Linked DNA regions of Homo sapiens: region 1 is linked to region 2. The links come from fine-mapping of genetic effects on gene expression. A gene starts in region 2. The other region holds a variant in brackets. All regions are shown on one strand. Distances are between the middles of the regions. Region 1 overlaps LOC105375065 (a long non-coding RNA gene). Region 2 holds the start of CRIP3 (cysteine rich protein 3).

Evidence for each region.
Region 1: its variant is fine-mapped to the expression of CRIP3 in whole blood (TOPMed, PIP above 0.99).

What each region holds. Positions count from the first base shown.
Region 1 is chr6:43,393,497-43,401,822 of GRCh38, reverse strand. LOC105375065 (a long non-coding RNA gene) reads right to left here. Exons shown (of 6, transcript XR_007059585.1): 2 at 4,097-4,286. Among named protein-coding and RNA genes, the nearest start is that of ZNF318, 28 kb to the right of the region's middle. The variant T/C (reference allele first, on the strand shown) is at 4,354.
Region 2 is chr6:43,304,616-43,312,941 of GRCh38, reverse strand. It overlaps CRIP3 (cysteine rich protein 3), which reads left to right and starts at 4,116. Exons shown (of 8, transcript NM_206922.3): 1 at 4,116-4,192; 2 at 4,533-4,627; 3 at 5,046-5,103; 4 at 5,199-5,330; 5 at 6,425-6,496; 6 at 6,629-6,723; 7 at 6,818-6,875; 8 at 7,067-7,470. The coding sequence starts at 4,150. The coding sequence ends at 7,128. It overlaps SLC22A7 (solute carrier family 22 member 7), which reads right to left. Exons shown (of 11, transcript NM_153320.2): 11 at 7,404-8,271. The coding sequence ends at 8,217. It also overlaps the pseudogene RPL12P47. RefSeq lists an enhancer at 4,599-5,456.

The sequences.
Region 1 (8,326 bases), 89 kb before region 2:
CGCAAAGGAGGCTGGGAAAGCACGGATCTGGTGTTTTCAGCATCTCTAGTGATAAGTAGGATCTGCTTCATATAAGATTCTTGGGGTCTTTTTTGTTTGTTTGTGTTTTTGAGACAGAGTCTCGATCTGTCACCCAGGCTGGAGTGCAGTGGTGTGATCTTGGCTCATTGCAATCTCTGCCTCCTGGGTTCAAGTGACTTTCGTGTCTCAGCCTCAGCCTCCTAAACACTTGGGATTACAGGCGCGTGTTACCCCGCCCGGCTAATTTTTTGTATTTTTAGTAGAGATGGGGTTTCACCATGTTGGCCCATCTGGTCTTGAACTCCTGGCCTTAAGTGATCCCCCCACCTAGGTATCCCAAAGTGCTGGGATTACAGGCGTGAGCCACCGTGCCTGGCCTATATACAATTCTTTTTGTCTTTTTCTTTTCTTTTTTTTTTTTTTTTTTTGAGACGGAGTTTCACTCTTGTTGCCCAGGCTGGAGTGCAATGGCATGATCTCGGCTCACTGCAACCTCTGCCTCCTGGGTTCAAGCGATTCTCCTGCCTCAGCCTCCCGGAAGTAGCTGGGATTACAGGCACCCGCCACCATGAGCAGCTAATGTTTTGTATATTTAGTAGAGACAGGGTTTCGCCATGTTGGCCAGGCTTGTCTCAAACTCCTGACCTCAGGTGATCCACATGCCTCGGTCTCCCAAAGTGCTGGGGTTACAGGCGTGAGCCACCACGCCTGGCCTATAAGATTCTTAAAGTGGGAAATTCTCATGGGCTGAGCAGCCTCCACCCCTATCTCCCAAAAAAGAAATGTCTACTGCAGTTGGCCAAATCTAGAGGGCAGGAAAAGGAAGAGGGATGGTTAGACAAGAGATCAAGGAGTGGCCCAGGGCAGTGGAAAGAGCCTTGAGGAAGCCTGGGAGGAGTTTTTGAGGAGGGAAAGGTAAGGTGCTAAGTGCTTTGGAGGGTTCTAGGGAGAGTGGAAGTATTTGGATAGAAAGTGGTGTTCTGTGACCTCACCAAGAGCAATTTTACTCAAGTGTGGAGGTAGAAGCCAATCATAGGAAATTATAGAGAAAACTAAAGTAAAAACATAGAGGAATCTCTCAAAAATATTGGGGACATTTGCCCCTATTAATCATCACGAAGACACAATCCAATGTCATCAATTCATCACTCATTCCATGACATGATTTGGCTGTGTTTCCACCTGTGTAGGGAAGGGAAGTAGAAAGTTGCCAGAATATGCCAGGTGCAGTGGTGCATGCCTATAATCTCAGCACTTTAGGAGGCTGAGGTGAGAGGACTGCTTGAGTCCAGGAGGTTGAGGCTGCAGTGAGCCATGATCAGACCACTGCACTCTGGCCTGGGCAATAGAAAGAAAGAAGAAAGGAAGAAGTGTGAGAAACGAACTCACCCATCCAAACCCAAAGAATGGACTCAGAGACCCAGAGAACAGTGAAAGTGAGACTTTTGATGACAGTCTTGCAAGATTGGGTGTCTGATAGGCAGGTACACCCAGCACAGTTTCAACAAGCAATTTATCCCCTCATGCACAGGTCCCTCTCCCAGTTCCTCATAGGCTGAGTACTATGTGGTCACAGTCTTCCCAGATGTTGCCTATTGATTGTTGGGTAGGGGCTTTAGGTGTTTTTTTGGCGGGGGGCGGGGGTTGTCTTGTGCATTTTATTGCAGCCCACAATGTGTTGCAATCCTAGTTAGCTCAAGGGCTCTTTAAGTATTTGACTTATGACCTAAGTAGCTGGACAGACTGATAAAAACAGACAAAGTAAGCTATTTTGCAGACTAGTAAATTTTTATCTTAAACTTCTTTGGTTCAGGTGAAGACAACTAAGGCAGGTGGGGAGGCTGACAAGCAGGCATTGGCTATCCAAGCAGGGGCCTAGTATATCCTGTTTCTTCTGTAGTTTGCTCACCTAAGCCAATTCAAGGCATTTTGTCTTGGAAATGGACCAGTGTATGCATTATTTCCTTCAATTCCCTCCTCTTTTTCTTTTTACTCCTATTGGTCCCATTTTCACATTTATGTTTGTGTCCTTTGGTTCTTAAATTTATTAGGTACTCCTCTAGGGACTCCTATTGAGTTAATACAAGTGCTGGGGTTAAAATAATTTGTTAGATCTCTCCAACTTCAGTGGCCACGTGGATTCTCGGGAATCTTATGGAATGCCAGGGTGAAGGGAATGGCCACTTGAACTAAAGCACAAGTTCCAGTCCAATTGGACAATAACAAGTTAGAGAGGTTTCTCTTCCCATAGTACCACCAGACATCAGCCTGGGGTATACGAAATGCTGAGTAGTTGCCTTTATTTGACTCACCAGTAATGTTTAGGATGTGGGTACAAGCTGAGAGTTTTCCCACAGGCTTACTGAACTCTGCCCCCTGCCTAGAGAGGCAAGAGGAGTGGTTCATATTCCCTTTGGAGAACAAGGGGATTGCTCTAGGGTCTGATCTCTGTAAGGCGGGAAAGAGCAATGATAGACTTTTGTAAGTCTTATTTCCCCATGCATTCGTGTCCTGGTATAGAGCCAACATGCAACACATTCCGTCGGGATTGGTATCCCATCCTAGGGAAATGGAACCACCTGTGCCTGAGGCTGCCCAGCACAGCATGCGTAACAGTTGGTCTTATTAAGAGCTAGTACTGGCCAGGTGCGGTGGTTCACGCCTGTAATCTTAGCACTTTGGGAGGCTGAGGCAGGTGGATTGCCTGATTCAGCAGTTTGAGACCAGCATGGGCAACATGGTGAAACCCCATCTCTACTAAAATACAGAAAAAAAAAAAATTAACCGGGCGTGGCATTGTGCGAGTAGCTGAGTAGTCCCAGCTACTCAGGAGGCTGAGGCAGGAGAATTGCTTGAACCCAGGAGGTGGAGGTTGCAGTGAGCTGAGATCGTGCCACTGCACTCCAGCCTGGCAACAGAGCGAGACTCCATCTCAAAAAAAAAAAAAAAAAAAGGAGCTAGTACCAAAAATTTGACCCATTCAACAGGCATTTACATCCCCATATTCAGTCTCAATTTCTAAAGTCTGCCTCAAGTCAGTTACCTTAATTATTTTTATTCTCTTAGAGTTATTGTCTGGTGGATTAAAGGAGGTAGTGGGAGGCCGGGTGTGGTGGCTTGCGCCTGTAATCGCAGCCCTTTGGAGGCCGAGGCGGGCGGATCACGAGGTCAGGAGATAAACCATCCTGGCTAACACTGTGAAACCCCGTCTCTACTAAAAATACAAAAAAAAAAATTAGCCAGCTGTGGTGGCGGGCACCTGTAGTCCCAGCTACTTGGGAGGCTGAGGCAGGAGAATGGCTTGAACCCGGGAGGCAGAGCTTGCAGTGAGCCGAGATCGCGCCACTGCACTACAGCCTGGGGGACACAGTGAGATTCCGTCTCAAAAAAAAAAAAAAAAAAGGAGGTAGCGGGACCAGGAGTTATAGTAATCCTGGGTGGGCTCGGGGTGGAGTTGGTGACTAGCCTAAGAGCAAACCGTTCCACCAGATTGCTTCCTGAGATATCTGTTCCTAATACCTACCTCCAAGGTTCCCGGTCAAGAGTAGCTGGGTTGTTTATCGTAATTAATATAGGATTGCATTCTAAATTTCTACAGTTAGGTGGCGTAGGGCCCTTAAACAAATGTATTTTATTCTATAAGGGTTTGTTTTTGGAAGAATGACTCACCCAACTTTGATATTGAGTGGTCCACCAGACCTGATTCCAGCTAGCACAGGGCTTTTCTGAGAGGGCCCAATAACAGTCTGTTTTAGGACATAGATCTTTGTCTGCTTGTGACAACTGTCTGTGGTTCCCTAAATTCCCACAAGGTAAGACTTGGCAGGTATTAAATTTTATAGTTTGGGGCAGGGTGGAGGTCTTGGTTATGTTGACTATTAGTTTGGATATTCCCTACTTTCCACCCCTAGTACTGGGCCCTATTCAATACTTAGGTCTTCTTTCACCCCTTGTATTAGGATTAATCCTAACCATATCCACCCCCAAGGACGGAGCCTGCTTATAGCTTCCTTTTAGGTTTTCCTTAGAGTTAGCTTTAAGGGTTCCTTAGGTGATCTATACACTTCCCATTCACCTTTTTCCCTTCCTTCTGGGGTTTCTTTTACCAGTCTCTTGACCCGAGTGTGAGTGTCCACCCCGTTCAGCTGTTCCTACGGCTGTCTCAGTGATCACGAGCACTTGATAGGAACCTTCCCAGCTTGGGTGGAGATTGTCTTCCTTCCAAGTCTTAATTAGCACCAAGTCGCCAGGCTGGAAGTGGTGACCTGTGAATTCAAGAGGCAGGGTTTGAGTTAGAAGTCTTTTTAACCTAAGGGATGACAGGGTGGAGGA[T/C]ATGGCCGGTATGTAATTTCTTTTTTTTTTTTTTTAAGACAGAGTCTCGCTCTGTTGCCCAGGCTGGAGTGCAGTGGAGCGATCTCGGCTCACTGCAAGCTCTGCCTCCTGGGTTCATGCCATTCTCCTGCCTCAGCCTCCCGAGTAGCTGGGCCTACAGGCACCTGCCACCATGCCTGGCTAATTTTTTTTTTTTTTTTGTATTTTTAGTAGAGATGGGGTTTCACCGTGTTAGCCAGGATGGTCTTGATCTCCTGACCTCATGATCTGCCCGCCTCAACCTCCCAAAGTGCTGGGATTACAGGCTATAATTTCTTAAAAATTGGTCTTTGGTTTCCATAGTAGGAAGGTCAGTAGTTCTGCCTAAATACAGGAATGCTTTGTAATGGCCTTAACCCAGGAGGTCTTCCTCCAGTACTCTGTTTTCTAACTACCTTTTTGTTTATTTTTTGGCAGGTTACACAACCCCCACACACTTGTTTAGCAAGGGTATAAATCCCTATACACCCATAATTTTTGAGTATTGCATCACACATGGCCTGGGGACCCCAGTGACTTCCCTTATGCAGTATGGACATTAGTTGTCTCATAAGGGGTTTGTTTATCATTTCTCTCCCATTACAGAGCACCCACCTTCCATCCTCAGTATGAGTGGCTCCTATCTTGCCCAGTTCTTCCTCCTCCTCTTTAGAAAATTGGGGTCTTAATACCACCTTAGGGATATCTGGGATTGGGCTAAACAGTCTAACTTCTTCCTCCAGGAGACTTGATTAGCAGCTTCACCGGCAAGCCTGTTCCCTACAGCTTCTATAGTGTTTCCTTTCTGATGGCCACTTACATCAACTACGGCTACCTCTGCGGGAAGCAGGAGGCTTTTTAAAACTTGTTTGACCAGTTCCCCATGTACCAGTTCGTTCCCCCCGTGCTATTTATTAGGCCGTGCTTTGTCCAGATTTTTTTCAGAAGTGTGTATTACTCCACAGGCATATTTGGAATTAGTATATAGTGCCTTCTTGGCCTTCTAGGAGCTTTAGGGCCTGGTTAAGAGCATATAATTCACAGGTTTGGGTTGACCAGTTATTGGGTAATCTACCTTTTTCACATAGGATTGTTTGTTTCCATTAATGACAGCATAGCCGTCGTGTCTTTTACCATCTATCACTCGGGATGACCCATCCACAAACAGCCTTATTCCATCATGTAGTGGAGTTTCTTTAAGGTCTGATCTAACTTTAGTTTGATATTCTATGATAGCTAAACAGTTACAGTCTGATGGCTTCTTATTATCCTCTCCTTTCCATGAAAAACTGGCTGGAGTTAGGTTAGGCACCTCCCCAAGGCCCGTTGACCCCAGAGGAACTTGGGGAGGCAAAGGCCTGACCAGCTGGCCTCCCAGGGTGCCTTTGGCCAGGCCCTGCTGGGTCTGGCTCTGGGCCAAGAGCTGCCAGCCTGTGGTGCCTTCCCTGATGGGCACACTCATTAGCAAAGGCATCCCTGGCTCTGGCCTCCCTTCCTCTTTCTTTGCTTCGAAGGCACCATCCATCTTCCTGGCAGGCCGAGAGCTGCACTGTTTTTATTTGATGCCACCCCTGCTGATGACCCAGCAACTGCAAAGGGTCTCTGGTTTGTCCCGCTCTGGGAGGGGGCTTTTTCTCCTCCTCAGCTGCAAGAATCCTCCCCTGGCCCAGCCTGGCTCTGGGAAACAGAACTTTCTTTCTTTCTTTTCTTTTTTTTTTTTTTTGAGACGGAGTCTAGCTTTGTTGCCAGGCTGGAGTGCAGTGGCGCGATCTTGACTCACTGCAACCTCCGCCTCCCGGGTTCAAGTGATTCTCCTGCCTCAGCCTCCCGAGTAGCTGGGATTACAGGCACGTGCCGCCCCATCCAGCTAATTTTTGTATTTTTAGTAAAGACGTGGTTTCACCATGTTGGCCAGGCTGGTCTCCTGACCTCAAGTGATCCGCCCACCTCGGCCTCCCAAAGTGCTGGGATTACAGGCATGAGCCACCACACCCAGCCGGAAACAGAACTTTCATACATCCCACCTCAAAGCATCTTGTCCGACTTCTCCCCAGCACGAGCTCTCTCTACTTCAGGGACTGCAAACTGGCATCCTCTCTCGCCTGTATTGGGTTTTTAAGTTTTTTGAACTGATCCCCAGCATTTAAAAATCATATTTCATGTAAAAAGTCAGAATTCTGGCCTCTGAGAAAGCAGACAATTTGGCAACACAGGGCCAGCACTGTAAGAACAGCCGAGCACTGCGGCCCCTTTAACACGGTGTGCCCTCTTCAGTTAGCCACAGTCCCCACCCAGCCCTGCAGCCCTCCTTCTCATCTTTTGCTGGCCCTGTAGTCCTTTGAGTTTACAACCCTAGTTCTGATCTTCCTTATGTAGCCTGCCAGCCCTTCTGCAGACTTACTGGCAGCTGCCCCTGGTGGACTTACAGCCTCTCAGTAAAACAACAACAAAACCTTAATGGTCATCTCATCCATTTACCCTTCCATAACCTGAATCCTCTCTACCACCTCCTGACAAACAGCCATCTGGTTTTTTTTTTTTTTTTTTAGATGGAGTCTTGTTCTGTCACCAGGCTGGAGTGGAGTGCAGTGGCGACTTCTTGGCTCACTGCAACCTCCGCCTCCCGGGTTCAAGCAATTCTCCTGCCTCAGCCTCCCAAGTAGCTGAGACTACAGGCATGTGCCACCACGCCCAGCTAATTTTTGTATTTTTAGTAAAGACGAGGTTTCACCACGTTGGCCAAGATGGTCTCAGTCTCTTGATCTCGTGATCTGCCAGCCTCGGCCTCCCAAAGTGCTGGGATTGCAGGCATGAGCCACCGTGCCTGGCCTGCCATCTGGTCTTTGTTGTAGGCAACCCATTACTCCTCAAGCAACCTGATCCTAAGCTCTCCTTCACATCCGTTTCTCACTTGCATCGCCCAGTTCCTGAGCTCTGTCCTTCCTTAGTGGCCGCACTGTAACCTTTCCCTGCACCTCCTTGCTGCTTGAGCCTCTAGAACCTTCCCCCAGCCCAGCCAACTTCTCGGCATCCTCTCACTTCTTCTTGTACTCTTTCTTCCTTTTACATTATTTTTCTCCCAAGTCTCACCTTCTGTGTCTCTCTTTGATCTCTGGCTTTTCCAGTCTTTCTCTCTCTCTCTTACTCATTTTTCTTTTTCTTTTTTTTTTTTTTTTTGAGATGGAGTCTCGCTCTGTCGCCCAAGCTGGAGTGCAGTGGCGTGATCTCAGCTCACTGCAAACTCCGCCTCCCAGGTTCATGCCGTTCTCCTGCCTCAGCTTCCCAAGTAGCTGGGACAACAGGTGCCCGCCACCGTACCTGGCTAATTTTTTTGTATTTTTAGTAGAGACGGGGTTTCACCGTGTTAGCCAGGATGGTCTCGATCTCCTGACCTCGTGATCCGCCCGTCTCGGCCTCCCAAAATGCTGGGATTACAGGCGTGAGCCACCGCGCCCAGCCCCTTACTCATTTTTCTTCTTCTGTCTCTCTCTCTGTCATCCCGTTTCCTTTCTCCCTCATACTCAGTTTCTTCCTCTTTCTCTCTCTGGGCACGAGCTGAGCCGTGCTGTACCCTGGCTCCCCACTTTCTGTCTGCAAAGATGAACAGCTCTGGCTCTCTTCTTTTTCTCTGGGCACCAGTGCACCTGCACAGTGTCTTACACTGTCTACCCTGTCTCAGCTGCTTAGTCCAATGGCTCCCACACACACAGATGCATGGCCAGCTCTCCCTTGCCTTCAGGGTCAGCAGCTTAACTTTCTCTCTCTCTCTCTCTCTCTCTGGCCCTCCATATTTGCCGTTTCCTCCCCTTTCTCTTTCTGATTTTCTTTCTTACTTGTTCTCTTTCTCTGTAGCAGGACGAGCCGCAGACAAAACTCCTCAGACACCGAGTTAAAAAGGAAGGAGTTTATTCGGCCGGGAGCATCGTCAAGACTCCTGTCTCCAGAGCCGAGCTCC
Region 2 (8,326 bases):
AGGTAACCACAAAAACTAAAAATTATTATTTTTTGAGACTGAGTCTCACTCTGTTGCCCAGGCTGGAGTGCAATGGTGTGATCTCAGCTCACTGCAACTTCCGCCCAGGTTCAAGCAATTCTTGTGCCTCAGCCTCCCGAGTAGCTGGGATTACAAGCGTGCACCACCATGCCTGGCTAATTTTTGTATTTTTAGTAGAGACAGGATTTCACCATGTTGGCCAGGCTGGTCTCGAACTCCTGACCTCAAGCGATCCACCCACCTCAGCTTCCCAAAGTGCTGGGATTACAGGCGTGAACCATCGCGTCCGGCTTCATTTCTTTTTTAAATAATTTTTAGGCCAGGCACGGTGGCTCACACATGTAATCTCAGCACTTTGGGAGGCCGAGGCACATGGATCACTTGAGGTCAGGAGGAGTTCGAGACCAGCCTGGCCAACATGGTGAAACCCCGTCTCTACTAAAAATACAAAAATTAGCTGGGCGTGGTGGCGCGCACCTGTAGTCCCAGCTACTCAGGAGGCTGAGACAGGAGAATTACCTGAACCCAGGAGGCAGAGGTTGCAGTGAGTCGAGAACGCACCACTGCACTCCAGCCTGGGCAACAGAGCGAGACTCTGTCTCAAAAAAAAAAAAAAAAAAGAAAAGAAAAAAAAAAAACAAGAAATGAGAGGCAGAAACAAGACAGGAAAATTCAGTGGAAGCTAAAACTAATATTTTTCAAATTTGTTAAAGAAGAAGCCTTTCAAGAAACAGTTATAAAACTAAGCATCTTGAAATATTCCCTGAAACAAGAAACAAATAATGAGAAAGTGTAGAAAAATTACAGTGTGGAAGGCTTCTACCCTTAGAACTTAAGAATGATAAAACAAGTGTTATAAGTAAAAAGGATTGATGGAGACAATTCAGGAACAGGAATATCCAGTGGAAGTTCATAGACCCCAGTCCCTACCCCATTACCCAGATGAAGGAACTGATGTCCCAAGAGGAGACACTTAAGACAGTGCGCCTTTCACCTAGCAGAGCACAGCACTGCAGTCCATTGATGAATTTGGTGCAAGCCCTTCCTCAACGGATTTGATGTAACAAAGGAACTTACTCAAGAAAACTCGGTTTCACTTCCATCCTTCATAGAGGGATTGATTATTGTCTCCTCTGCTGGGACACTGGCACAAGTTTATCAGCTCTTCCCTCCAGCTCTTCATTGGCTACCTTTCCCCCCAGTCCCCCTGCCTTTTTTTTTTTTTTTTTTTGAGACAGTCTCACTCTGTTGCCCAGGCTGGAGTGCAGTGGCGTGATCTCAGCTCACTACAGCCTCAACTTCCCGGGCTCAGGTGATTCTCTCACCTCAGCCTCGCAGGCACATGCCACCAAGCCCAGCTGATTTTTTGTAGAGATGAGGTTCGCCATGTTGCCCAGGCTGGTCTCTAACTCCTAGGCTCAAGTGGTCCACCTGCCTCAGCTTCCCAAAGTGCTGGGACCAGGCGTAAGCCACCACTTCTGGCCGCCTTTTTTCTTTAGTTTTCTTCAGGTTCTATTGTTGTTGTTGTTGTTGTTGTTAAGACATTACGCATATACCATAAAATTCGCCTTTTTAAAGTCTACAGTTCATGCTTTTTAGTATATTTCCAAGGTTGTACAAACATTACTGCTATCTAATTCCAGAACATTTTTATCTTCCCATAGAGAAGCTTCGAACCCATTAGTGGACATTTCCAATTCCATCTCCTTGACTGGCCAACCACTAATCTACTGTCTGTCTCTGTGGATTTACCTATTCTAAATATTTCATATGAATTGATTCATATGATATGTGGCCTCTTGTGTCTTGCTTTTCTTACTTAATGTTTTTATGGTTTACCTGTGTTGTAACATGCATCAGTATTACATTCTTTTTTACAGTTGAGCAATATTCTATCATACAGATATACTACATATTGTTTATCCATTATCAGTTAATGAACTTTTGGGCTGTTTCTACCTTTTGACTATTGTAAATAGTCCTGCTATGAACATTCATGTACAAGTTTTTGTATAGACATATGTTTTCATTTCTCTTATATACCTGGGTATAAACCTGGAAGTGGAATTGCTGAGTCATATGGTAACTCTATGTTTAACTTTTTGAGGAACTGCCAGACTGTTGTCCAATGTGGCCACACCATTTTATGTTGCCACCAACAATGTATGAGGGATCCAATTTTGCCACATTCTTGCCAATATTTGTCTCTTTAATTATAACCATCCTAGTCAGTATAAAATGGTATCTCATTGTGGTCCTAATTTGCATTTCCCTAATGACTATTGATATTCAGCATCTCTTCATGTGCTTATTGGCCATTTGTGTATCTCTAGAAAAACATCTATTCAAATACTTTGCTCACTTTTAATTGGGTTGTCTTTTTGTTATTGCATTATAAGTTATTTATATAATCTGGTTACTAGATCCTTATCAGATTTGCAAATATTTCTTCCATTCTCTGGATTTAAATTTCTTGAAATATCCTTTGAAGCACTATTGAACTACTTTTTTTTTTTTCCACCAGTTGTCAAATGATCCTTTATTGAAATATTTTCCTTTGTGCTTAACTGGCTGGGCATTCCACAGAACCACTGTTGATATCATCTATGATGTCATGAGGGTGGCGGCCATCAACATTACAGCCCACAGACTGGGCAGTCCCCAGGATCTCTTTAATGGTGCCAGAGAGTCTATTGAACTACTTTTAACAAATATTTATCTGGGCATGGGGGCATATACCTGTAATCCCAGCACTTAGGGAGGCCCAGGCAGGTGGATCGCTTGAGCCCAGAAATTCGAGACCAGCCTGGGCAACATGGCAAAACCCCATCTCTACAAAAAATACAAAAATTAGCCAGGTGTGGTGGCATGTGTCTGTAGTCCCAGCTACTCCAGAGGCTAAAGTGAGAGGATCGCTTGAGCCGGGCAGGTGGAGACTGCAGTGAGCTACGATGCACCACTACATTCCAGCCTGGGCAACAGAGACCCTGCCTCAAATAAATACATTCATTAAAAACACAAATATTTAAAAATTTTAAAGCAAACCAGATTAGAAATGTGTAGTTGGTTTTCATTTTTATTTATTTATTTATTTTGAGATGGAGTCTCGCTCTTGTCCCCCAGGCTGGAGTACAGTGGTGCGATCTCGGCTCACTGCAACCTCCACACCTCCCGGTTCATGCGATTCTCCTGCCTCAGCCTCCCGAGTAGCTGAGATTACAGGCATGCGCCACCACGCCCAGCTAATTTTTGTATTTTTAGTAGAGACGCAGTTTCGCCTCGATGGCCAGGCTGGTCTTGGACTCCTGACCTCAGGCGATCCGCCCACCTTGGCCTCCCAAAGTGCTGGGATTACAGGTGTCAGCCACTGTGTCCAGCCACCCTACAGCTTTAGGAGTAAACGATTGTATACAGACCATGTTCTGAGGCTTCCAAACCGAGTCTTGAGTTCATTAAGGGATCCATCATAGTGATAGCTATAGCTGTTACAGCGTTTACATGCCAGGCGCTGTTTGGGCACTCTACATGTATTAACCTATTTAACTCTCATAACAATCCTATGAGGCAGAGACTGTTATCATACTCATTGCACAGATGAGAAAATGGAGGCAGAGAGGGAGGTTCAGTAATTTGCCTGAAGTCAAAGAGTAGGGTACCAGAGACGGGCTCCAGATTTTGTTGCTTTCAACCACTTGCTATACTGCCAAGGTGGAATTTTGCATTTCAAAGAATGCCTACTCCCTCGCTTTGGAGAGAGTAGTGTTTTAATGATGTCTGCACTGTGGACATTTTTCCTGTCCTTACCGCTCCAGAAACTAGTAGAGCTCCCTGTCCAGGTGTCTTCGTTACACATGTGCCTTCCTAGTCTGGAGTCCACGGCTTCAAGATCCTCTCTCCTCCCCGTGGGTCTGACCGAGGCTTTAATGCTCTTTGAAGTAACAGCGAAATAGCCCTTTGTCTCCCAAGTGGAGTGGTTCTAAATTTCTGATAACCAATGAGCGCCGAGGAACCGCGGATTCCGCCCAGGGAGGCTCAAAGCTGAGCCGTGGGTGGAGCCTGCGGAGGGGGCGGAACTGAGCCGCAGCGGCGTACCTACTGTGTGCCGCGTGCGCTGCCTGGAGCGGAGCTATGAGCTGGACCTGTCCGCGTTGCCAGCAACCTGTTTTCTTCGGTGAGGCCCGGGCTGCGGAGGGGGAGAAGATGGGGCGAATGGGAGCCGCTGGATTCCCTGAGGACGCGGAGGGCTAGCCACAGTGTAGTCCCAGACACCCTTTTCACCTGCAGCGGCTGGTAGTCTCCGCACCACCCGCTCCCACTCGGGTCTTCTCCCTTCCTCTGAGAGCTCTGTGGGGAGTGTGAAACCGGAGCGGGATGGAGCTGGCCTCCTGGAGACACTCATCTCCAGGAAGCAGGGCAGGCCAACCTAATTCCCTAGAGGGCCGAAGAGGGAAAGGAGGGGCCCTATGCTTGGACAGGCTCCTCGCAGCTCGGTTCCACTTTGTCCTCCACAGCTGAGAAGGTGAGCTCCCTGGGCAAGAACTGGCACCGCTTCTGCCTGAAATGTGAGCGCTGCCACAGCATCCTGTCCCCTGGCGGGCATGCAGAGGTAAGACCTGGCCAGGGAGCACTGCCCTGTTTACATCACTGCCTCCCACCCCCCAGGCACCAGCCCCCAACTTCAGCACTGGAGGCCTGCCAAAGGGAACCTCAGTAGCCAACCCCAAGGCCGCCCACCTGGTGGACCCCACACCAGCCAGGAATTTGGGAACCTGGGTCGTGACTGTGGATCCCATGGTTTTGGGGATCAGGGTGAGTGGGAAGCAGCGTCACCTTCTGAGCTGCTCTTGCTCTTCCTCCCTTGACCACAGTGGAAATGCTGGCATGCCAGCCCATCCCCCACCCCTCCCAGGCCCACCAGACTCAGCCAGTGGACAGACACACCTGGCAGCCTGTCTGGGGTGAAGGCCTGTGGGGCATGGCTCCCGCTGGCCTTGAGTAACCCACTTCCCTCTGCTTGTGCCCAGCACAATGGGAGGCCATACTGCCACAAGCCATGCTATGGGGCTCTCTTTGGACCCAGGGGTAAGTACCAGCCTTAAGGGGCCATGGGTCAGCAGAACCCTCCTTGTGGCTGGGAGCTGGGGGCTCAAGCCTGACCTCCCCTATTCTCTCTTCAGGGGTGAACATTGGTGGTGTAGGCTCCTACTTGTACAATCCCCCCACTCCCAGCCCTGGCTGCACCACTCCTCTCAGCCCCAGCAGCTTCAGCCCTCCCAGGCCAAGGACTGGCCTCCCCCAAGGCAAGAAAAGTAAGGCTGGGCTCAGCTCCTCCCAGTCCTCCTCCCGACCCTTCCCCAAGCTGGAGCGGAGGTTGGGCCAGGTGGCAGTCTCCTATCCAGCCCTCTGCTTCACATTCTCACAACTTCATTCTTGGCAAAGTCTTCTCTATCTACTCCCCGCTTTTTTTTTCTTTCTTTCTTTCTATTCCCTCATGTGAGCTGCTGAGTTAAGAGGTAAATTGTTGGGAGGCCGAGGCAGGTGGATCATGAGGTCAGGAGTTCGAGACCAGCCTGGCCAGCATGGTGAAATCCCATCTCTACTAAAAATACAAAAATTAGCCAGGTGTGGTGGCTCATGCCTGTAATCCCAGCTACTTGGGAGGCTGAGGCAGGAGAATCATTTGAACCCAGGAGGCGGAGGTTGCAGTGAGTCAAGGTCATGCCATTGCACTCCAGCCTGGGCAACAGAGCGAGACTCCATCTCAAAAAAAAAAAAAAAAAAAAAAAAAGAGGTTAATTGGGCAGATGGCATTATCCCCTCTCCTCGTGTGTTACAGGTGAGGAAAGTGAGATCCAGACAGGGCAAATGACTGTCCATCCACAAAGCTAGTCAGAGGCAAAGCTGGCCAGGAACTTAGGTCTGTCCCAGGCCAGGGCCATGGAAGGAATGATCTAAAGGAGAGGAGTCATTGGGATAAGGCCAGCCTCTCATATTCTTCAACTTTTCTCCTCTGGTCCCTGTTCTTTCCCTCCATTCCCTGAAGTAGGCAATGACACTGTGCTCCCCAACACCTGACACCCGTGCTGTGGCCAGCTCCTATATCAGCTCAAGTTTCCTGAGGATTGAGTTGCTAACAGGGTTGGGATGGTGGGTACGTGAGCCCCTGGGAGGATGAAAAGGAAGCAGGAGAAGGAAGCAGATAGTCCCTAATACACATAGGGATGGGGCAGGAGGTGGAGTCAGAGGGGGCTCAGCTCTGGGCCTGTAGAAGGCAGACTCTTGGGCGCCTGGGTGGGGCACTCTGGAATGAGCATGGCTTTTGAAAGAGGACAGCACCATATGCAGGCAGGTGCTGGTGGGCATCTCCACCTCAGACATAGCCAGGGCCTCTTCCCCTTTAAAGGCCCTCCCCATATGAAGACATTCACTGGGGAGACCTCGCTGTGCCCTGGCTGTGGGGAGCCCGTCTATTTTGGTAAGTAACAGTGGAAAACTTGGGGAGGGGGATACAGGGTGGGCAGCAAGGGGGAGGGAGGTGATCCAAGGCAGGTAGGTCTCCCTACTCTACCCCTAGAATGGAAGCATTACCACTTCTTTCCACCACCAGCTGAGAAGGTGATGTCATTAGGCAGAAATTGGCACCGACCGTGTCTGAGGTGCCAGCGTTGCCACAAGACCCTGACTGCTGGGAGTCATGCTGAGGTGAGCAGGGCAGGAATGAGTGGTTATGTTGGGAGGAGGCTGGAGATGGGAAGAGAACCAGGCTGAGACAGCTCTCTTTCTCTCTGTGTCTCAGCATGATGGAGTCCCCTACTGCCACGTCCCCTGCTACGGCTACCTGTTTGGCCCCAAAGGTGGGCAGCCCCATCCCAGACACTGGGATGGCATGTACATGCCTGAAGTATGGCATGTACATGGTCTGTGGGTATGTGTGGACAACTTCCCCTGTGGTTAAGCATACCCTGGCCCCCCCACCAAGTTCCCTCTAGGCCTGAACCCTGCACCACAGACCCAGGGCCTTTGGTGATAGGGCTCTCTCTCTCAGGTGTGAACATTGGCGATGTGGGCTGCTACATCTATGACCCAGTGAAGATAAAATTCAAATGAGACGCTCACAAAAAAGGTCACCCTAACTCAGGCCTCCCATCATGCCCCTCATGGTCCAATGGAAGCTACAAAAATCTCCAGTCCCATGGGGGTTGGGGAAGGTGGGATCTTGGGGGCCTGGGCCTAGGCTCCATGGTAGGCCAGAGAGTCTAGACTTTCTCTGCCAATTTTTTCCCTTTCCCATTTCTATCTGGTTAGGGAACAGCCCGTTTTGAAGGGTATCCTCCTCCTGGCCATCACAACCCCTTTCCCCAGCACATTCTGGAGCTTCAAGGTACTCATAAAACTTGTGTTTATTGAATTTCAGCCTCTGTGGCTTCTTCAATAAAATGTTGGCTCCCATGCCTTCAACTCTTCTTTGGGCATGAGACCAGTGGGTTGGAGGATGGGGAGTGTGGGGGTTGGGATGACATGCATTGCCCTGCAGGGTGCCTCGGAGGTAGCAGGGCCAGCCATGAGAACAAAAAGCTCTGTTCTTTTTGTCCCTTGGGCCTGGCATTGGCAGTCCTAGCACCACACAGTGGACAGCATGCCCACCAGCCCCATTGGTACCAGAAGTCTCATATGCTAGTCCTTTCTTTAGCACCATCTCTAGAAGAAGCAGAAGCACCTTATTCAGTAACTCATTTGAGCATGGCAACAGATCCTATGGTAGGGCCTCCCAAGAGGCTTCATTATCCATTTGGGAGATGAACAGACTGAGGCCCAGAGAGGGAAAGCCACATGCCCAAGGTCACACAGCAAGTTAATGGTGAAGGTTTTATCAGAGCCCAGGGCAGACTCAGTGGCTTCCTATCCAGGGCTCTTCCCACAGCTCGTCACCACTGCCCCAACCCAAGGGGCACCTTTATTTACAGAATCCTCCCCAACCGTGAGAGGGGTGCCCAGCAGCCCACTGCATTCTGGGAAGTCAACTGTTCCTAGAAGCCAAATAATCAAGGATGGATGAGCAGAGGGAGCGGGTACTGGCAGCAACTCCGGCCCTAGGCAGAGGGTTCGATACTCCCAGCCTGAGTTGCAGGGCCTGCCCTTCTGCTCTCCCAGCCCCTGCTGCAGAGCTTCTGTGGAGGGCCTGCCTCCACTCCCACTTAGTTCTGGACCTGCTTCATGGGCATCTCTTCCTCCTGAAGACTGGTTGGGGCACTAGGGAGGAAGGAGTTGTGAGCAATGGTGGGGTTTAATCCCCGAGCCTACCACC